Linked DNA regions of Homo sapiens. The protein of the gene in region 1 purifies or fractionates together with the protein of each later gene. This does not show direct contact. Each region holds a gene or a part of one and is shown in the gene's direction. Other genes may lie near its edges.

Evidence for each region. Proteins that work in one complex are often made in the same cells at the same time.
Region 2: the proteins of CD46 (region 1) and CSTF3 fractionate together in Homo sapiens (co-fractionation; one large-scale study listed by BioGRID). This does not show direct contact.

Annotation. Positions count from the first base shown.
Region 1 is NC_000001.11:207,792,943-207,796,079, forward strand, and holds the end of CD46 (membrane cofactor protein isoform 3 precursor), read left to right. Parts: intron 1-576; coding exon of another isoform or gene 577-653; 3' UTR 654-2,562; downstream 2,563-3,137. UniProt on the Homo sapiens protein: Acts as a cofactor for complement factor I, a serine protease which protects autologous cells against complement-mediated injury by cleaving C3b and C4b deposited on host tissue.
Region 2 is NC_000011.10:33,086,279-33,088,637, reverse strand, and holds part of CSTF3 (cleavage stimulation factor subunit 3), read left to right. Parts: intron 1-1,496; coding exon 1,497-1,650; intron 1,651-2,359. UniProt on the Homo sapiens protein: One of the multiple factors required for polyadenylation and 3'-end cleavage of mammalian pre-mRNAs.

The DNA of each region.
Region 1 (3,137 bases):
AAAATTTTAAATTACATGTATGACTGGCATCATCTGTCTTTGGCCAGCACTAGACTAGAATAATAGGTTTTATAAAGATGTCTATTGTTATACTAAAAGTGTGACGTAAACTTTAGTTATTTAGGAGACTCTTAGTGGAATACATGATTTTCTTGACAGTGAGGGGTAGATGAGGCATCACATACTTGAACAGTTAGAACCACTATCTTTTTAAAGGTTCTGTGCCAGAGCTACAGCTTTAAAATGGAGGGATCAGGAAAGCATGCGTTTGTCTCCAGTCTTTCCCATTGGCCCTACATCAAAATGAGGACATAGTTACTAAGTACTTTGTGTGCTACTGCTCTATTTCTTGTTTTGGAGGGGATCAAAAATATAAGACAGGGATAAAGGAAGGTTTTTTTTACAGTGAGACCAGTTGAACATTTGAAATTATTTTAAAAGAATAATTTATTTCCCAGGTTGGTGGCTCATTACTATATTTTTTTAATTGTTCATTTTCTGAATAGGCTTCTGGAATTTAATTTCTGTACTTAATTATATTTATCTTTGACATGATCTTTATACCTTGGTTTGCAGGAAAGCAGATGGTGGAGCTGAATATGCCACTTACCAGACTAAATCAACCACTCCAGCAGAGCAGAGAGGCTGAATAGATTCCACAACCTGGTTTGCCAGTTCATCTTTTGACTCTATTAAAATCTTCAATAGTTGTTATTCTGTAGTTTCACTCTCATGAGTGCAACTGTGGCTTAGCTAATATTGCAATGTGGCTTGAATGTAGGTAGCATCCTTTGATGCTTCTTTGAAACTTGTATGAATTTGGGTATGAACAGATTGCCTGCTTTCCCTTAAATAACACTTAGATTTATTGGACCAGTCAGCACAGCATGCCTGGTTGTATTAAAGCAGGGATATGCTGTATTTTATAAAATTGGCAAAATTAGAGAAATATAGTTCACAATGAAATTATATTTTCTTTGTAAAGAAAGTGGCTTGAAATCTTTTTTGTTCAAAGATTAATGCCAACTCTTAAGATTATTCTTTCACCAACTATAGAATGTATTTTATATATCGTTCATTGTAAAAAGCCCTTAAAAATATGTGTATACTACTTTGGCTCTTGTGCATAAAAACAAGAACACTGAAAATTGGGAATATGCACAAACTTGGCTTCTTTAACCAAGAATATTATTGGAAAATTCTCTAAAAGTTAATAGGGTAAATTCTCTATTTTTTGTAATGTGTTCGGTGATTTCAGAAAGCTAGAAAGTGTATGTGTGGCATTTGTTTTCACTTTTTAAAACATCCCTAACTGATCGAATATATCAGTAATTTCAGAATCAGATGCATCCTTTCATAAGAAGTGAGAGGACTCTGACAGCCATAACAGGAGTGCCACTTCATGGTGCGAAGTGAACACTGTAGTCTTGTTGTTTTCCCAAAGAGAACTCCGTATGTTCTCTTAGGTTGAGTAACCCACTCTGAATTCTGGTTACATGTGTTTTTCTCTCCCTCCTTAAATAAAGAGAGGGGTTAAACATGCCCTCTAAAAGTAGGTGGTTTTGAAGAGAATAAATTCATCAGATAACCTCAAGTCACATGAGAATCTTAGTCCATTTACATTGCCTTGGCTAGTAAAAGCCATCTATGTATATGTCTTACCTCATCTCCTAAAAGGCAGAGTACAAAGTAAGCCATGTATCTCAGGAAGGTAACTTCATTTTGTCTATTTGCTGTTGATTGTACCAAGGGATGGAAGAAGTAAATATAGCTCAGGTAGCACTTTATACTCAGGCAGATCTCAGCCCTCTACTGAGTCCCTTAGCCAAGCAGTTTCTTTCAAAGAAGCCAGCAGGCGAAAAGCAGGGACTGCCACTGCATTTCATATCACACTGTTAAAAGTTGTGTTTTGAAATTTTATGTTTAGTTGCACAAATTGGGCCAAAGAAACATTGCCTTGAGGAAGATATGATTGGAAAATCAAGAGTGTAGAAGAATAAATACTGTTTTACTGTCCAAAGACATGTTTATAGTGCTCTGTAAATGTTCCTTTCCTTTGTAGTCTCTGGCAAGATGCTTTAGGAAGATAAAAGTTTGAGGAGAACAAACAGGAATTCTGAATTAAGCACAGAGTTGAAGTTTATACCCGTTTCACATGCTTTTCAAGAATGTCGCAATTACTAAGAAGCAGATAATGGTGTTTTTTAGAAACCTAATTGAAGTATATTCAACCAAATACTTTAATGTATAAAATAAATATTATACAATATACTTGTATAGCAGTTTCTGCTTCACATTTGATTTTTTCAAATTTAATATTTATATTAGAGATCTATATATGTATAAATATGTATTTTGTCAAATTTGTTACTTAAATATATAGAGACCAGTTTTCTCTGGAAGTTTGTTTAAATGACAGAAGCGTATATGAATTCAAGAAAATTTAAGCTGCAAAAATGTATTTGCTATAAAATGAGAAGTCTCACTGATAGAGGTTCTTTATTGCTCATTTTTTAAAAAATGGACTCTTGAAATCTGTTAAAATAAAATTGTACATTTGGAGATGTTTCATGATGATGTGTTTATTTCTAGTGGGTTTTGTCTCAAATTGAAGTATGTTTCTAATTGGGCCCATCTTCTAACCATTCCACTCCCACAGCCATTCCTCCTGTCCCTCCTAGCTCAGACCCTTAAGTATCCCCAGGCTTCTCCACTCCCAACCCATCACATAGATACTGCACAGATATCCAGTGACATCACATTACCTACTGGATGAAGTCCACATTTCTTAGCCTGATACTTGAAGACCTTTTACAATTAAATCCCAACTTTCTTCCCCAAGCATTTTCTATTGCACTTCTTCAAATAACCTACTCTCAGTCAAGCCTGACCATTTCCCCTGTGCTTTCTGCTGTATTCCTAGTTCATTGTTGCTTGAAACACCTACTGTCCTGTTGAGATCCTATGCATCTTCCAAGGCCCAGCTCAGATATTACCCTTCATGAAACTGTGCCTGATTTCTGCCCAGCTCTTATAGTCTTTATTATTACCTAACCTTGGGATAGCCACATTTAAGCATCTATATATACGTGTCCAGTAGAAGATATATCTTCTGCATCCTATGATCGCATATGTAG
Region 2 (2,359 bases), on another chromosome or scaffold:
CTGTCTTAAAAAAATAAAATAAAAAATAAAAATAAACAGAAAAGAAAGATCTTATAGTGGCCAGGTGTGGTGGCTCACACCTGTAATCCCAGCACTTTGGGAGGCCAAGGTGGGTGGATCACCTGAGGTCAGGAGTTTGAGACCAGCCTGGCCAACATGGTGAAACCCCGTCTCTACTAAAATACAAAAATTGGCCGGGCTTGGTGGCGGGCATCTGTAATCCCAGCTACTCAGGAGGCTGAGGCAGGAGAATTGCTTGAACCCAGGAGGTTGTAGTGAGCCAAGATAGCACCACTGTACTCCAGCCTGGGTGACAGAGTGAGACTCTGTCTCAAAAAAAAAAAAAAAGAGAGTAAGTATTCAGGAGTAGAACTACTTCCTGAATATGATGTTTTCCATCTTGTATTTCTATTTCTACTCTTTTGTTTTTTGGGGAAGGATTAATGTGCTTCTGTGTTTAACGGTGGGTGGTATGGTATGTATGTATCTGTGAGAAAGATTTTTAAAAAGCGATACCCAATGTGTCTACCATTTAGATTTGCTTATATAATTAATACCAGATGTCACCAACTCCATTTCAACAAATTTTGAGAAAGTGGAATGCTTTTATATCCCTTGATGGCGGCAAAAAGGGGTTCTTTTGTTTCTAGACAGACAGAGTAACACTGGGTTGTCTGGAGCAGAGGAGCTCCTCTGAGATAGGGCCTCTGTTCATAGGTGACTGTATTGCTTCCTTTGGCATATCTTGTCTCAGCCCTGGCAGGGCAATGCTAGTGTACTGAAAAGAAGACTGTGGATGGATTTGAGGTCAGAGAGGCCTGCCCTCCCAATCCTCCTCTCTCTACTTCTTATTAGCTGTGTGACCTGGGAAATATCAAAACCTTTGTGAGCTTCAGTCCCTTCTATATAATGGAGATGTTACTATTTCCCTCATTAAAAACAGAATGGCTAAAATTGCCTGATGAATAGTGTCTGCTCAGTAAATATTCCTTGTCCCCTGTAATAAATAGTACATTGGAAATAATTTTTCATTGCATTAGCAAAATCTTAACCGGTGTGATGCCTTCACAAAACAGGAAGTCACTTAATCCAGCTTCTTCATTTAATGAAACTGGTGTTCAATTCTAATGGAAGGGAGGTGTCAGAAGATCTAAAATCTTGAATTTTCCTCCAAATTATCCTGGCCTCTACTTGGTTCCCAGTCTGACTACCCAAAAAAGCTTGTATCTGTCCTACAAATGTCCTGCCTGGCAACACTAAGTTTAATGACTTGTAACTTGTGTGGGGTAAAGTTATGATACACTGAGTCTTAGAACCAAATAGCTTTCCTTGTTGAGTAACAATCTTTACCATCATTAGAGTCCTTGCTTATCCGTCTCCATTTTCTTTCTGTGGTTTTGACCCAGATATTCACACTGTATCCTCAAGGTTATTGCATGATTATTCTCTAGTAGTCCCTTTTTCAGGTTTAGGATTCTTCTGTTCTGCATTTTCAGGATGTCTCCCGTGCTAAGCTAGCAGCTATAATTCCGGACCCAGTTGTAGCTCCTTCTATAGTGCCTGTTCTGAAAGATGAAGTGGATAGAAAACCAGAATACCCTAAACCAGACACTCAGCAGATGATTCCATTTCAGCCACGACATTTAGCACGTAAGCCATGACTTTAGATCCAGTACTGAGACGTTGGTTTGTTTGTTGATTTAAATCCAAAGCGTGGGGGTAAAGTGACATGGCCTCTCAATTGTGGGTTAATTATTAGACTTAGGATCACTATGACAAGTGATTTAGCTTTAATCTTTGAACTAGATTAACTAAGAATGTCCTAAAAACAAAACTTCAATGATCCAGATTCCAGGAACCCATTTTGGCAGTAATACTTGGTTTTCAGAAATGCTGCTATGGCCAGGTGCAGTGGTTTACACTTATAATCCTGGCACTTTGGGAGGCCAAGGCAGGTGGATCACCTGAGGTCAGGAGTTTGAGACCAGCCTGACTAACATGGTGAAACTTTGTCTTTATTAAAAATACAAAAATTTTCTGGGCCTGGTGGCATATACATGTAATCCCAGCTACTTGGGAGGCTGAGGCAGGAGAATCACTTGAACCCGGGAGGCGGAGGTTGCAGTGAGCCAAGATGGTGCCATTGCACTCCAGCCTGGGCAACAAGAGCGACACTCTGTATCAAAAAAAAAAAAGGAATGCTGCTATGTGCAGATTACCTGAACAGCTGGTGGAAACTTTCTTCACTGATAGATTTGGTTTCTTTACTTAGGAATGGGTTAGTAGCCTCTCTAGATTCTTTTTGAACAAGGCCCTTCTGATTAAATACACTGTTGAATAATTGACTTGAAACAGGATT